2 separate regions of the Homo sapiens genome follow, and region 1 is linked to region 2. Evidence: fine-mapped expression QTL. A gene starts in region 2. The other region holds a variant in brackets. All regions are shown on one strand. Distances are from middle to middle. Region 1 overlaps PRR12 (proline rich 12). Region 2 holds the start of BCL2L12 (BCL2 like 12).

What was found. PIP is the estimated chance that this variant, and not a neighbour inherited with it, causes the effect.
Region 1: its variant is fine-mapped to the expression of BCL2L12 in whole blood (TOPMed, PIP above 0.99).

What each region holds. Positions count from the first base shown.
Region 1 is chr19:49,595,411-49,603,729 of GRCh38, forward strand. PRR12 (proline rich 12) reads left to right here. Exons shown (of 14, transcript NM_020719.3): 4 at 1-2,603; 5 at 3,862-4,528; 6 at 6,081-6,508. Among named protein-coding and RNA genes, the nearest start is that of PRR12, 8.4 kb to the left of the region's middle. The variant A/G (reference allele first, on the strand shown) is at 4,580.
Region 2 is chr19:49,662,522-49,670,840 of GRCh38, forward strand. It overlaps BCL2L12 (BCL2 like 12), which reads left to right and starts at 3,412. Exons shown (of 7, transcript NM_138639.2): 1 at 3,412-3,546; 2 at 4,164-4,278; 3 at 4,498-4,640; 4 at 6,330-6,416; 5 at 6,503-6,594; 6 at 7,695-7,967. The coding sequence starts at 4,172. IRF3 (interferon regulatory factor 3) reads right to left here and starts at 3,336. Exons shown (of 8, transcript NM_001571.6): 1 at 3,110-3,336; 2 at 2,153-2,325; 3 at 822-993; 4 at 667-737; 5 at 1-96. The coding sequence starts at 2,317. RefSeq lists silencers at 3,315-3,464, 3,505-3,584.

The DNA.
Region 1 (8,319 bases), 67 kb before region 2:
CTGGCCGGGCCACGGGCCCTGAGGCAGCAGGGGGCGGTGGGGCTGGGGGTGGTGGTGGAGGTTACCGCCCCATCATTCAGTCGCCTGGGTACAAGACGGGCAAAGGTGGTTATGGAGCAGCTGCCGGGGGTGCCACCAGGCCCCCCCCACCCCGTTCGACCGCCACCCCCAAATGTCAGAGCCTGGGTGGGCCAGCAGCCGCCTATGCCACTGGGAAGGCCTCTGGGGCTGGAGGGGCAGGGGGCCAGGCTTATTCCCCCGGTCAGCCTCAAGGGCTTCTGGGACCCCAGGCCTACGGGCAAGGGTTTGGAGGGGGGCAGGCACAGGACTTGAGCAAAGCCCCCAGCTACTCAGGGGGCCCCCCACAGCCCCCCAGCGGCCCCCCTCCTCCTGGCCTGGCCACATGTCAGAGCTACTCCCCGGACCAGCTGCAGGGGCAGCTGTATGGGGTGCAGGGCGAGCCATACCCAGGGCCAGCCGCCCACTCCCAGGGGCTGCCCACAGCCAGCCCCTCGCTCAGCTACAGTACCGGCCATTCCCCAGCGCTCTCGGGCCATGGGGGTGGCTGGGGACCCAGCTCCCTGGGAGGCGGCGGTGAGGCCAGCCCATCTCACATCATTCGTCCGCTCCAGTCACCGCCTGCCACCGGCCGTCCACCTGGAGTCGGCTCTCCAGGAGCCCCTGGCAAATACCTGAGCTCAGTCTTGGCCTCAGCGCCTTTCCTGGCACCTCCGGGAGCTGGCAGCTATGCAGCCGGAGCAGGTGGCTACAAGGGCAAGGGGGATGGCTCGGAGCTGCTGGCGGGCCCAGGTGGGCCTCCTGCGGAGCGCACAGAGGATGAGGAGTTCCTTATCCAGCACCTCTTGCAGGCGCCCAGCCCTCCTCGGACCTCAGGGGCGGACGGCTTGGTGGGCGAGGACGGGGCAGCAGATGCCTCTAAGGGACTTGGGGGGAGTGGCGGGGCCGGGGGACCACCGGGTACACCCTACGAGTTGGCCAAGGAAGACCCCCAGAGGTACCACCTGCAGAGTGTCATCCGCACCAGTGCCAGCCTGGATGAGGGTGCCACTGCGGCACTGGAGCTGGGCCTGGGGAGGCTGAAGGAGAAGAAGAAAGGGCCAGAGCGGGGTGGCGAGACCCCCGAGGGGCTGGCCACCTCTGTTGTCCACTACGGGGCAGGCGCCAAGGAGCTGGGGGCCTTCTTGCAAAAGAGCCCTCCGCCCCCACCTCCCACGGCCCAGTCTACCCAGCCCACTCCCCATGGCCTCCTTCTGGAGGCCGGGGGCCCTGACCTCCCACTGGTGCTGCCTCCGCCTCCCCCCCAGCTGCTCCCCTCGGTCCTCAGCCATGCCCCCAGTCCCTCTCCCAGCGCCTCCAAAGTCGGCGTCCACCTCCTTGAGCCAGCCACCCGCGATGGGGCACCCCAGCCACCTCCACCGCCACCCCCGCCTCCACCACCCATGCCCCTGCAGCTCGAGGCCCACCTCCGCAGCCATGGCCTGGAGCCCGCGGCCCCCAGCCCCCGCCTGCGACCCGAGGAGAGCCTGGATCCGCCAGGCGCCATGCAGGAATTGCTCGGGGCTCTGGAGCCGCTGCCCCCGGCGCCTGGGGATACTGGCGTAGGCCCACCAAACTCGGAGGGCAAGGATCCCGCAGGCGCCTACCGCAGCCCCAGCCCGCAAGGCACCAAGGCGCCGCGTTTCGTGCCGCTCACCTCCATCTGCTTCCCTGACTCCTTGCTCCAAGACGAGGAGCGCAGCTTCTTCCCCACCATGGAGGAGATGTTCGGTGGAGGGGCCGCGGACGACTACGGCAAGGCCGGGCCACCTGAGGACGAGGGGGACCCCAAGGCTGGCGCTGGGCCACCCCCCGGCCCCCCTGCTTATGATCCCTATGGGCCCTACTGTCCTGGCCGGGCGTCGGGAGCCGGGCCCGAGACACCGGGCCTGGGCCTGGACCCCAACAAACCGCCTGAACTGCCCTCCACGGTCAACGCCGAGCCGCTGGGCCTGATCCAGAGTGGCCCCCACCAGGCGGCGCCACCACCCCCGCCTCCGCCACCGCCGCCTCCCGCGCCGGCCTCCGAACCCAAGGGTGGCCTCACCTCGCCCATCTTCTGCTCTACCAAGCCAAAGAAGCTGCTCAAGACATCCTCCTTCCACCTGCTGCGGCGCCGCGACCCACCCTTCCAGACCCCCAAGAAGCTGTACGCCCAGGAGTACGAGTTCGAGGCGGACGAGGACAAGGCCGATGTTCCCGCCGACATCCGCCTCAACCCCCGGCGCTTGCCTGACCTGGTCTCCAGCTGCCGCTCCCGTCCGGCCCTCTCGCCACTGGGGGACATCGACTTCTGCCCACCCAACCCAGGACCCGATGGCCCCCGGCGCCGTGGCCGCAAGCCCACGAAGGCGAAACGTGATGGGCCACCCCGGCCACGGGGGAGGCCCCGGATCCGCCCCCTGGAGGTCCCGACCACTGCGGGGCCCGCCTCGGCCTCCACGCCCACCGATGGCGCCAAGAAACCCCGGGGCCGGGGCCGAGGCCGGGGTCGAAAGGCTGAGGAGGCAGGGGGCACCCGGTTGGAGCCCCTGAAGCCACTTAAGGTGAGGGGAAATGGGGTCTTGTAGGGGATAGGGGAGGAGGAGCTGTGTCCGATGTTTGAGTCTTTTTTTTTTTTTTTTGAGACAGAGTCTCGCTCTGTCGTCCAGGCTGGAGTGCAGTGGCACGATCTCGGTTCACTGCAAGCTCCGCCTCCCGGGTTCACGCCATTCTCCTGCCTCAGCCTCCCGAGTAGCTGGGACTACAGTTGCCCGCCACCACGCCCGGCTAGTTTTTTTGTATTTTTAGTAGAGACGGGGTTTCACCGTATTAGTCAGGATGGTCTCGATCTCCTGGCCTCGTGATCCACCCGCCTCGGCCTCCCAAAGTGCTGGGATTACAGACCTGAGCCACCGCGCCCGGCCTCCCGATGTTTTGAGTCTTAAAGGACAGGTTTATGGCCGCACCTTGGCATTTTTGGGGCAGGGGGATAATAAGGTTTACATTTCTAAAATCTGTGAGGAAGTTAGCGTGAGGAATTTCAGGGTCTCACTGACAGAAAGACCTAAGAATTGAAATTCTGAATCTAGGCTGGGCAGTGTGGTTCATGCCTGTAATCCCAGCGCTTTGGGAGACTGAGGCGGGAGGATCTCTTGAACCCAGATGTTCGAGACCAGCCTGGTCAGCGTAGTGAGACCCTGGTCTCTATTAAAAACACAAAAATTTAGCCAGGTGTGGCTGCGTGTACCTACAGTCCCAGCTACTCAAGAGGTTGAGGTGGGAGGATCTCTTGAGCCCAGGAGTTCAAGGCTGCAGGGAGCTATGATTGCATCACTGTGGCCTGGGCCACAGAGTGAGACCCTGTCTCAAGAGATAAAGGAAATTCTGGGTTTAGGGAGAGAGGCAGGAGGTTGGAGCTTACGCTGGTTTGAAACTCCTGACCTCAAGTGATTTGCCTGCCTCAGTCTCCCAAGGTGCTGGGATTACAGGCACGAGCCACCTCACCCGGTCTGCTTGCTTTTAGTTTCTATATCCCAAAGGATGGGCATTCAGGGATCCTACATTCCTGGGTCTCATGGGAAGCGGGTCTAGGGACCTGAACTGGGCTGTAAGTGAAGAGGCTCAGTGAGTCCAAGTTCCTGGTCTTCTGAGGGAGGAACTCCAGTCTTGTCCTCCTAGAATCTAAGACAAGGGGTCTGCAGGTTTGAATTCTATAAATTCACAGGCTGAGCACCTGTAAATTTGGATTTTTGGGGGCTGAGGGAGGATGGGACTGGGGGCCCAGGCTACTGGGCCCTCACGGCCCGCCACTCCCATGTCTAGATCAAGCTGTCTGTGCCCAAGGCTGGCGAGGGTCTGGGAACCTCATCGGGTGATGCCATATCAGGCACTGACCACAACAGCCTGGACTCGAGCCTGACTCGGGAGAAGATCGAGGCCAAGATTAAGGAGGTGGAGGAGAAGCAGCCGGAGATGAAGTCGGGTTTCATGGCCTCCTTCTTGGACTTCCTCAAGTCAGGCAAGCGCCACCCACCACTCTACCAGGCGGGCCTGACGCCTCCGCTCAGCCCTCCCAAGAGTGTGCCACCCTCTGTGCCAGCCCGAGGCCTGCAGCCCCAGCCCCCTGCCACCCCTGCTGTGCCACATCCCCCACCTTCCGGAGCCTTTGGGCTTGGGGGCGCCCTGGAGGCTGCAGAGAGTGAGGGTCTGGGGCTTGGCTGCCCTTCACCCTGCAAGCGGCTTGATGAGGAGCTGAAGCGGAACCTCGAGACGCTGCCCTCCTTCTCCTCGGATGAGGAAGACTCTGTCGCCAAGAACCGAGACCTGCAGGAGAGCATCTCCTCCGCCATCTCTGCCCTCGATGACCCACCCCTTGCTGGGCCAAAAGACACTTCCACCCCAGATGGGCCGCCCTTGGCCCCCGCGGCTGCAGTTCCAGGGCCACCCCCTCTTCCGGGGCTCCCCAGTGCCAACAGCAATGGCACTCCCGGTGAGCTCTGGGCAGGTGGTCTGGGAGTAGAGCTTAAAGGTTATTATGATC[A/G]CTAGGTAACAGTTGTGCAGGTTACGCACTGTTTAAGAGACACCATTCACATACATGGTGTAAGCTTGCGTGTTTATGAAGGGACTTTCCTGATTACACAAGCATTTTGAGGAAGGTCTATCTTTTTCTAATTCACTCAGAGGTGCTAAGTGGACTAGGAGGGGCCCCAAGGCAGACACTGGAGAATGCAGGGAGACAGGGCAGGTGATAAGTTACAGGGACAGGACAGGGGCTACTCAGGTTCTGAATGGTGGGAGGTGTGGGAACTGAGGAGGGCTCTGAGTCAACTGTGTGTGAAGGTACAGAAAGATGTCTGGGGGCAGAGAAAGACTTGGGGATGGGGGTGGGCGGTGGAAGGGAAGGCTAGGGGCATAGGAAGGGTTTAGGTTGTGCTCTGGTTTTGGACACAGTTTAAGGAGTGTAATGTCAGAAACAGAGGCATTGGGAAATGAGAGGTGGGAGCTTACAGGAGGGCACAGAGGGGAGTGTTCAAAAAAAAAAAAAAACCATGACAGGCCGGGCATGGTGGACCACACCTGTAATCCTAGCACACTTTGGGAGGCTGAGACAGGAGGATCGCTTGAGCCCAGGAGGTTGAGGCTGCAGTGAGCCATGATTGAGCCACTGTACTCCAGCCTGGGTGACAGAGCAAGACCCTGTCTTAAACAAAAAACCCCAAAAACAAAACAAAAAGACCCTATAACGTTCTTTTTTTTTTTTCTTGAGACAGGGTCTCTCTATGTCACCCAGGCTGGAGTGTGGAGTGCAGTGGTGCGATCTTGGCTCACTGCAACCTCTGCCTTCCGCTCACCGCAACCTCTGCCTTCCAGGTTCAAGTGATTCTCCTGCCTCAGCCTCCCGAGTAGCTGGGACTACAGGCGCGCACCACCATGCCCAGCTAATTTTTGTATTTTTAGTAGAGACGGGGTTTCACCATGTTGGCCAGACTGGTCTCGAACTCCTGACCTCAAGTGATCCACCCACCTCAGCCTCCCAAAGTGCTGGGATTACAGGCATGAGCCACCATGCCTGCCCTCTGTGAGGTTCTTAAAAAGCCTGAAGAAGGGAGCTGGCAGACAGGGGAGAGGTTAGCAGTCTGCATACTGGTGAGCAGGCCAAGGAAAGGACAAAGATGGTCCTGGAGGGAGGAGGATGAGGCCTTGGAGGAAGAGGAGGTGAGGAAGTAGAGTTAGGGAGGTGATGATTTAGGAGTTGGGAGGGTCATTCAGGAAGAGGAGTTAAGAACCAGACAAGGGCTTTAAGACCACAAAGAGACATTCCAGGACTGAGAAGGGGATTAGGGATAGGAGACAGGTCTCCTTTGCAGCCGCAGGAGCCAGAGTAGGTCTCTGGAGAGACTCTGATAGGGTAGAAGGGACACTGGGAGCTGAGTGGTAGTTACAGAGGGGCTTTTGGTATAGAAAGCAGTGTTTAAAGGACAAGAGGAAAGGTGCCAGGAATGATGAATAACATCCAGGCCTGATGTCCCTGTCTCCCCCAGAGCCCCCGCTGCTGGAGGAGAAACCCCCACCCACTCCACCTCCTGCCCCGACTCCTCAGCCTCAGCCTCCGCCACCCCCTCCGCCGCCACAGCCAGCCCTGCCCTCGCCACCCCCGCTGGTGGCCCCCACGCCCAGCTCACCACCGCCACCGCCGCTGCCGCCGCCACCTCCACCAGCCATGCCCTCGCCTCCACCACCACCCCCACCAGCCGCTGCCCCACTGGCTGCTCCTCCTGAGGAGCCCGCCGCCCCGTCTCCCGAAGACCCCGAGCTGCCGGACACCCGGCCCCTGCATCTGGCCAAAAAGCAGGAGACGGCGGCAGTGTGTGGGGAGACGGACGAGGAGGCCGGCGAGAGTGGCGGAGAGGGCATCTTCCGGGAACGGGACGAGTTCGTCATCCGTGCTGAGGACATCCCTTCCCTCAAGGTGAGTCCCAGCCTTCTCCAGAAACTGGGCCTGATGGGTTTGGTCACCTGTTTGTTGAGTGCCCGCTGGATGACAGGCTTGTGCTGAGACCTGCAGATCCAGTCGTGGCCGGGCCGCCCTGGAATTTGCAGTCCTATGGGGCTGATAGAGGTGTCGAGGACCTGCGGGCCTCAGAGGTGTTATTTGCGTTTGTGTCTGTACATGCATTACCTGTATATAAGGTAAAGCGATTGTTAACGCGTATGTGTCTATATGTGCGTTACCTGTATATAAGGTGAACCGCTTGTTAATGTTTATGCAGATACCCTGCTGTGGGTGGTAGAGGACCAGTACTGTACAAGCAGATGAGGCTCTGGCCCTAGGGAGCTTCTAGTTTAATGGAACCAGCCAGAGAGGCGGGCTGCTTTGCCATTTATGGCACAATGGTGGAAATGTGTCATTGACATAGACTACCTGCAGATACACACTTATGTAACCTGTAAATATAATCATGAATTGGGCCGGACGCGGCAGCTTACACCTGTAATCTCAGCACTTTGGGAGTTTGAGACCAGCCTAGGCAACATAATGAAACCTTTTCTCTCAAACAAACAAAAAAAGTGAATCATTTAGGAATGGTTATTGTGTGTCAGGCCATATCTTTTTGTTTTTTTGAGATGGAGTTTCGCTCTTGTCCAGGCTGGAGTGCGATGGCTCAATCTCGGCTCACTGCAGCCTCTGCCTCCCAGGTTCAAGCGATTCTCTTGACTTGGCCTCCCAACTATCTGGGACTACAGGCGCAGGCCACCACACCCGGCTGATTTTTGTGTTTTTAGTAGAAATGGGGTTTCACTGTGTTGGCCAGGCTGGTCTCGAACTCCTGACCTCAGATGACCCACCTGCCTTGGCCTCCCAAAGTGCTGGGATTACAGGTGTGAGCCACTGTGCCTGGCTGGCCATAGCTTCAATATTTACCTTAAATACTTAAATACGTAAATGCAGACCAACAGCCTGTTCACTGCTTCCAGTTTGTCTACCGCAGGAGCTTGAAAACTATGGCCCCTAGGCCAAATCCAGCCCACTGCTTGTTTTTGCAAATAAAGTTTTATTGGCACACAACCATGCCCATTCATTTACATGTTGTCTATGGCTGTTTTTCCCATATGGCAGAGAGCTGGGTAGTTAGCTGGCCCTCAATGGCAAAAAATATCTCTGGCTCATCATGAATAAAGTTTGCTGGCCTCTACTGTACTGGGTTCACTGGACAAATAGAGTTGGATCAGAGGATTAATGTGCAAGGCACTTGACAGGGGTAGGTGTTACCAGGTGCCCATGGAGTGCTCTGCACAGGGCATGCGGCTGAGCAGGTGCTCAGGAGGTCAGCCCATTCTCACCCTGATGGTGGCATGGACGCCAAGGCCATTCTCCATGTCAATCATTGTCATTGATTGTACTGATTATGATACAGGATTATTGTTTGGCCCTTCGTGTACAGTGTGACATTTAATCTTGGCGGGGCATGGCGGTTCACGCCTGTAATCCCAGCACTTCGGGAGGCCAAGGCAGGTGGATCACTTGAGGTCAGGAGCTTGAGACCAGCCTGGCCAACATGGTGAAACCCCGTCTTTACTAAAAATACAAAAAATTAACTGGGCGTGGTAGGGCGCACCTGTGATCCCATCTACTCGGGAGGCTGAGGAAGGAGGATCACTTGAACTCTGGGGTGGAGGGGGGAGGTTGCAGTGAGCTGAGATTGTGCCACTGCACTCCAACCTGGGCACCAGAGCAAGACTCCATCTCGAAAAAATAATAATAATAATAATTTAGTCCTG
Region 2 (8,319 bases):
AGGGCAGGGCTCAGGGGCTACAGCCAGGCTTGGGGGTCCCGGATCTGGGAGTGGGGCCAACACCATGTTACCCAGTAACTCATCCAGAATGTCTTCCTGGAGGGAAACAAAAAAAGAGAATCAGGCATTTCCATATCCTTTTCTGGAGACTTCATATGGACCAGGTCTGTTCTCAGCAACGCAGGGAGGTCAGGCTTGAGCTCTGCCTTCAAGGGGCTTCCAGCCTGGGGACAGAGCCAGCCATGGCATCAACAGCCAAACAAACACTAATGAACGCCAGGTGCTACCATTCCAACCCAAGGATCTGGCTCTATGCAGGTAAGACCTGGGCAAAGCAGGCTGGGTAGAATTTCAGAGGGGATGCTCCCCCAGCTTGGGCCTCAGCAGGATCAAGGTGAGGGAGTTTTTCAGTTCCCAAGAGGCTGACAGCCCCCTGCGAATCGAAATCCATGAAATCCCGGGAAGGTGTGCTCGGGCCTTGAATGCTGGGTGAAGACTTGGAATTTTCTCCTGAGGAGACCGGGGCAGGGACAGACAGGGTCAGCACTGGCTCAGGTGAGGGGCAGGCTGGAGGCAGGGGAGTGGGGGGATCGTCTAGAGGGAGAGGACAAGGCCCATGGAGACAGGTCGGAGACTGAGGGGCATGAAAGTTGGGCACATTCTCACCTGGGTATCAGAAGTACTGCCTCCACCATTGGTGTCCGGAGAGGTGTCTGGCTGGGAAAAGTCCCCAACTCCTGTTGAGAAAAGTGGTGAGGGGAGTAGGAGTGCCAGGAACCCTTGGGGCCCCAGCCTCCCACACGAACCCCAAGCTGGCAGACCTGAGTTCACAAACTCGTAGATTTTATGTGGGTCGTGAGGGTCCTTGCTCCGGTCCTCTGCTAAACGCAACCCTTCTTTGCGGTTGAGGGCAGAGCGGAAATTCCTCTTCCAGGTTGGCAGGTCTGGCTTATCCCTCCCGGGAACATATGCACCAGTGGCCTCGGCCCAGGCCTGGGGCAACAGTGGTGTCAGGATGGTGGGGGAGGACGACTTAGATCCTGCTCCTGGGGCCCTAACCCTGTCTCCCGAGTCCTAACACCACCCTCTTTCCCTGGCAAGTTCTAACTCTGCAAGGTCCATCCCCAAATCCCCCCGTCCCACCTACCTCCATCCCCCACCTCTAGTTTTCAAAAGGCTTTTTTTCTTTTTGAGATGGAGTTTCACTCCTGTCACCCAGGCTGGAATGCAATGGTGCAATCTCAGCTCACTGCAACTTCCGCCTCCCCGGTTCAAGCGATTCTCCTGTCTCAGCCTCCTGAGTAGCTGGGATTACAGGTGGGCACCACTACACCTGGCTAATTTTTGTATTTTTAGTAGAGATGGGGTTTCACCATGTTGGCCAGGCTGGTCTTGAACTCCTGACCTCAGGTGATCCGTCCTCCTCGGCCTCCCAAAGTGCTGGGATTACAGGCATGAGCTACTGTGCTCGGCCTCTTCAAAAGCCTTTGAAACCTCTTTGGTTTTTGTTTTGTTTCGCTTTTGTTTTTAAAGAGATGGAGCCTATGTTGCCCAAGCTGGCCTCAAACTCCTGGGCTCAAGCGATCCTCCCGCCTTGGCCTTGCAAAGTGCTAGGATTACAGGTGTGAACCACCGCCCCCGGCCCAAAAACCTTTTCTTTCTAAGCCAGGCTTCCAAGTCCAACTTGGTGTCTAATCCCGTGCACCACCTGCCCCGCGACACCCTCTGTGATAACCCCGCCCCTCACACTGTTTACCACCTCTGGCATATACTAATTCGGTAGTTAGGAACCTCAGATTTGGGGCTCCAGGCCTCACCTCTGATGTTTCAAGAACCATCCCCCAGTATCTATCCTACAACCAAGAGCCCCGGCCTCTAGAAAGCCCCAAACCCCCAGGATGCATTTCCTTTGCGTACTAACCGGCTTTCCCGGTTTTATTCCCGTAACCCTGCAGCTCCAACCCTGCTTGCGCCCCACCATCAGTCAGCGGATCCGGCTAGCCCCGCCCCTCCCGTTCTAGCCCCACCCACCAGCGTTGGCACGAGCCCGCCCCTCGCGCGCCACCTCCGCCTTCTCAGCCGGGCCCACTAGGAGTCCTTTCCGCCCAGCGCGCAGCTCCGGGTTTCCAGCGTCCCAGGTCGTCGCACGCACCTGGAAGATTCCGAAATCCTCCTGCTGTGCATCCTGCCGTAGGCCGTGCTTCCAAGGGATGCGGAAGCGCGTGCGGCTCTTGTTCACCCAGGCCACGCCCTCCAGTTGCCCCAGGTCCAGCTGCGACACCAGCCAGGGCAGGATCCGTGGCTTTGGGGTTCCCATGGTCCGGCCTGCGCGTATAGGGCATTTCCTGGGCGCGACCGGCCTCCCCCGGACCCACCTGGCCTGGAGTTTCCGCACCCAGACCTCCTTCTCACGGGCCACGGCACAGGTCCTTCACCCATATTTTCGGGGGTACAAACAGGAAACCTCCTCTTCCCATCCTCCCATCCTCCCGAGAGGCTCTCTAATCAGCTAGGGTTCCTTCCCATATCCATGGCACATCCTTCCCCAGCGTCTTCAGTGCAGACCCTCCACTCCCTCAATTCCGCCAGTATAGACCTCCTCCCTCCCCCACATCATCGAAAGTAAGTATCCCCACTTTCAGGGTAGCATCCTCTTTCCCTAGTTATTTCAGTGCAGAATCGATTCACGTGTAAGCCTCTACCTCCTGCACTTACCCCAATGTAGACCCCCTTCCACAGTCCCCCTACAGAAGATCTCCCAAAACATTTCCAACACAGAACTTCCATTCAATTCCCCTCCGACTGCCCGCCTCCCTCCTCCAGGACAGAGCACGCCCCAGGTTTCGAGACTGAACTACCCCCATCTACGGAGTCCACCCCTCCCTCTCTAGAACCCCCTCAGTGTAGACGCCTCCTCTTTTCCTCTTTCCTCCCTACTTTTTCTAGTTTTTCTGCAGCCGACCTCCAGCGTCGGCCACTGTAGCTCCTTCCTTGCTCCACTTTCCCCAGAGTACACAGCCTGCCTTTCCACTCTCCGTGCAGACCCATCCTCTTTCCCGCTCCTCGCTCTCGGACGCCACCAACGCTCTCCCGGGCTCTTCCGCGTTACCTACGATGGAAGGTCGGGGCGTGCGGGCAGCTGGAACCCACCCCTGTCTTGGAGCTCCGGGTAGCTCTCAAACTCGAGGCTGCGCACCCCCTTTCCCGTCAGCTGAGCTCTAGAGCGCTGGGGCTTTCTTTTTGATCGACTTCTTGAAATAAAACCAACTTTATCATTCTTTGGGTAACAGACCCAAAAGCCGATGGGACGGCCCGCTGGGCTGTTCCCGCCCCTATGCCCTTTTTTGGGTTTCCGGCCAGAGGCATGCTGGGAGCGTCACATGCAAATTGAGCGTGCACCCAGCGTTCCGCCCTTTCTACGCTGGGCCGGTTATCGACCCGGCCCAGTGCGCAGGCGCGGGAAAGTTGAACTAATAAAGTTTGTACGAGTTCAGTGGAGGAGACCGCAAGTTGAGTGGAGGAGGCGGCGGTGGGGCCCCGGACCAGGTCAGCGGGGTGTTGACGAGGGGTGGGGTGAGGAGGGAAGAGGAGGGGGCCGGGATCCAGTGGTGGGCACCCCAGTCCCGCTTCTCTGATATCCAAGGGTCCAGGGTCCTCTAGATTCCAGCAGGGGTCGGAGATTTGGAACTACACCTCACAGCAGGCTGCGCGGCGAAGAAGCGCGGACCTAGGGGAAGATTTGCCCTGAAACCTCTTGGGATTGGTAGTTCCCGATGCTTTAAGGGTTTCAGGAGTTTGGCATATGCCTCTTATAGAATCCAGGAGTTGGGGCGCTAAGCCTCTTCTTCCTGGGAGACCTAAGGGTCTGGGGCTCCAGTTCCTTTTTCTCTAAGACTCAGAAGTCCAGGACCCCAGCTCCCTCCTCCTTTAGACCCACGAATCTGGGCACCCAGCCCCACCACCTTTCCTTGGATCGAAGAGTCTTTTTCCTGATCGCTTTTTCGTCTGAGGACTCAAGAGTCTAGGCCCCCAGACCCACACTCTCCAAAGGACCCAGGAGTCCAGGCCCTCAGCACCTTCCTTGGGACTCACAAGTCCTGGTCCCCAAGCCTCCACTTCTTGCTAAACCCTTGGAGTCCAGTCCCTAACCCTCTCTCTCACAGGTGCCTCCATGGCAGGCTCTGAAGAGCTGGGGCTCCGGGAAGACACGCTGAGGGTCCTAGCTGCCTTCCTTAGGCGTGGTGAGGCTGCCGGGTCTCCTGTTCCAACTCCACCTAGGTAAGAGGAGTGGCCCTTCTCCCCCAGGGGCCAGCATTTGAGGCTCCCTCCTAACTCTTGCTCCTGGTCTCAGTCTGTCTCCTCTCTTTATATCTGGCTCTATTCTCTGTCTTTGGGGTTTTGGAGAGAGGTCCTCAGCGGGGGAGGGAGGGAGTTGGGGAAAGAGACTGCTTGCAGGGGATCTCTGGTGGGGTCAGTCTCTGAAGTCCTCCTCTCCAGAAGCCCTGCCCAAGAAGAGCCAACAGACTTCCTGAGCCGCCTTCGAAGATGTCTTCCCTGCTCCCTGGGGCGAGGAGCAGCCCCCTCTGAGTCCCCTCGGCCTTGCTCTCTGCCCATCCGCCCCTGCTATGGTTTAGAGCCTGGTAAGAGATTTCCATGATCATCTATGAAGCCGGCAGAACACGGGATAAGGTGCTAGTTTAAGATCACTCAGCTAGGGGGTGGCTGTGTGGAGTCTCTAGCACCAGCCTTCAGGACAGAACCGTCCTGTCCTCTCCCCTCCCCAGTTAGATTTCTGTCAATTCTGTGGGTTGGCTTTCAGAGAGCATTTGGTCAATCTGGTTGTTGTCTCTTTCCTTCCATAACTACTTCCCTGCCCCTAGGACTTTTGTAGCCAGGAATACCCCTGATAGAGGGGCAGAAGGGCTGGTTTTCAATCACATCTCCCTGGCTGTTTTAGTTGCGTGACTCTGGGGAAAATGCTTTCTCTTCCCTGCTCCCCTGTTTTTCCAATAGCAGAGTAGGAATTGGGGAGGAGGTCACTGGACTTGATCAAGGTGACCCACAAGTTTCCTCATAGGTGTGAACCTGGACAGACTAGTAATGGCTGCTGGGAGTGCTAGCTTGAAAAGGGGTTCACAGCTTGGGAGAGGAAGTGCTGTGATCAATTGGTGATGTCTGTAGTGAGTGAGGGAAGGGGATACTAACAGTAATGTCTTGTGTTTGCCTTCCTTGGATGAGATCATCTTCAAGGTCTAGTTGAGCTCTGACAGTCTTTTGGAGACAGATTGTTGCTCTGTCACCCAGGCTGGAGTGCAGGGGTGCAATCTCGACTCACTGCAATCCCCACCTCCTGGGTTCAAGCGATTCTCGTGCCTCAGCCTCCCGAGTGACTGGGATTACAGGTGCACGCCAGCATACTAGCTGATTTTTATACTTTTAGTAGACACGGGGTTTCGCCACGTTGGCCAGGCTGGCCTCAAACTCCTGGCCTCAAGTGACCCTCCCACGTCGGCCTCCCAAAATGTTGAGATTGCAGACGTGAGCCACCGCACCCTGTCAGCTCTGACATTCTTTTTTTTTTTTTTTTTTTTGAGACGGAGTTTCGCCCTTGTTGCCCAGGCTGGAGTGCAATGGCCCGATCTCGGCTCACCACAACCTCTACCTCCCGGGTTCAAGTAATTCTCCTGCCTCAGCCTCCCAAGTAGCTGGGATTATAGGCATGCGCCACCATGCCCGGCTAATTTTTTTTGTATTTTTAGTAGAGATGGGGTTTCTCCATGTTGGTCAGGCTGCTCTCGAACTCCCAACCTCAGGTGATCTGCCTGCCTCAGCCTCCCAAAGTGATGGGATTACAGGCGTGAGCCACTGCGCCTGGCCCCAGCTCTGACATTCTAAGTCCAGTCTGAGGATCTCATAAAGTGAAAAGTACAAGGGTTTTGGCATTTTTAACCAAGTTTTCTCACTGGGCCTCAGTTTACCCCATTATAAAATGGGAATCATGGCCAGGCTTGGTTGCTCACGCCTGTAATCCTAGCACTTTGGGAGGCTGAGGTGGGTGGATTGCCTGAGGTCAGCCTGGGCAACACGGTGAAACCCCATTTCTACTAAAATACAAAAAATTAGCCAGGTATGGCGGCGTGCGCCTGTAGTCCCAGCTACTCATGAGGCTGAGGCAGGAGAATTGCGAGACTCCGTTTCCCAAAATCAATACATAAATAAATAATAAATAAAATGGGAATCATTGCCACCTGCCAAGGTAGTTGGGGGAAGGAGAGAATCCGTAAGTTTCCAATGTCCTGGAAACCTGTCATTAACTCTTTTCACCCCAGGCCCAGCTACTCCAGACTTCTATGCTTTGGTGGCCCAGCGGCTGGAACAGCTGGTCCAAGAGCAGCTGAAATCTCCGCCCAGCCCAGGTGAGGCACAGAGGAGCCCCAGAGAAGGATGGCGGTGGGAGGATAGTCAGGGTTCTGCCCCCAGCCAAATTCTCTTCTGCCTCCAGAATTACAGGGTCCCCCATCGACAGAGAAGGAAGCCATACTGCGGAGGCTGGTGGCCCTGCTGGAGGAGGAGGCAGAAGTCATTAACCAGAAGGTGATGGGCATCTGTCCCACTCCTTGGCAAGGACAGGAGTTGCGGAATGGTGGGGCACTGGGATCAGAAGCTGGATCTGTATTTTCTTTGGATGGTCAGGTGGAAAGAGGCTGGGACAAGGTTTCAATGAAGGGTTGAGGCCGGGTGTGGTGGCTCACGCCTGTAATCCCAGCACTTTGGGAGGCCGAGTTGGGTGGATGACTTGAGGTCAGGAGTTCGAGACCAGCCTGGCCAACATGGTGAAACCCCATCTCTACTAAAAATACAAAAATCGGACAGGTGTGGTGGTGCGCTTCTGTAATCCCAGCTACTCAGAAGGCTGAGGCAGGAGAATCGCTTGAGCCCAGGAGGTGGAGGTTGCAGTGAGCCAAGATTGCGCCACTGCACTCCAGCCTGGGTGACAGAGTGAGACTCTGTCTTTAAAAAAAAAAAAAAAAAAGAATAGTTGAATGACAGGGGTATGGTTAGGGTAGTACTGTACCGTAAATTAGTTGTTTTAATTGATTGTTTAGAGGGGCATGGCCTAAATGCAGAGGGTGTGGCCATCAGAAACATTATCCACAAGAGACTGGCCAAGCTGGGGAAGTAAGTGAATGAATGTGGGGGTGGGGGGAGTGGCTAAAATCTTACTGAGCATAGAAGGGACCTGGCTTAGAATGTAGGGGAAAATGTACTACCAGAGGAGGTGTGGCTTGTGGCTGTGTCCTGGAATCTGATTGGCTTCGGAGCTTGGACAAGGTACATCGTCCTTTAATATTAATTGAATGGTAGAGGGCAAGATTGTTGTAGACACTAGGTTGGCCCCTGGGAAAGGTCACCAGGGGCATGGCTAGATTAACTCAGTTACAGTAGAGATTGGCCCTGATTGGCTGTTGAGGCAAGGGCCTGGCATGGCTTAGGGACTCACGTTCCAGGCCACTATCCCGGGGGTAGTTTGGCAGAGACCCTGGAGTCTGGCTTGATTGGCTAATATGGATGAGGGGTGGCCTAGAACCTTAGCATCTAGAACGATCCTGAACCGGGAAGCCACGCCTCCCGGCCCTCTATTGGCTGGCCCCGGGGGCGCTGCTGACGCGGACCCTGCCTCTTCCACCCTACAGCTGGCCTCGGACCCCGCCCTGCGCAGCAAGCTGGTCCGCCTGTCCTCCGACTCTTTCGCCCGCCTGGTGGAGCTGTTCTGTAGCCGGGATGACAGCTCTCGCCCAAGCCGAGCATGCCCCGGGCCCCCGCCTCCTTCCCCGGAGCCCCTGGCCCGCCTGGCCCTAGCCATGGAGCTGAGCCGGCGCGTGGCCGGGCTGGGGGGCACCCTGGCCGGACTCAGCGTGGAGCACGTGCACAGCTTCACGCCCTGGATCCAGGCCCACGGGGGCTGGGTGAGCCGCTGAAGCCTCTCTCTCCGGGCCTCACTTTACCTAACTGTCATGTGATAGAGGAGGGGCGGGGACTTCTTAGGTTCCTCTCAGACCTCAGGTATTCTCCCAGCTCCACTGCGTTCGTTCTGTTGAGCCCTTGCTGTATGCCAGGACTGCAGCGATGAGTGCAGACACTATGCCTGGCGTCAACGACTGGGTACGCTAATACTGTGAGCGTGAAACCAGTGACTGAGGTTACTCAGGGAGAGGCCGGACGGGGTAGCTCATGCCTGTAATCCCAGCACTTTTGGAGGCCAAGGCAGGAGAATTATTTGAGGCCAGGAGTTCAAGACCAGCCTGGACAACATAGTAA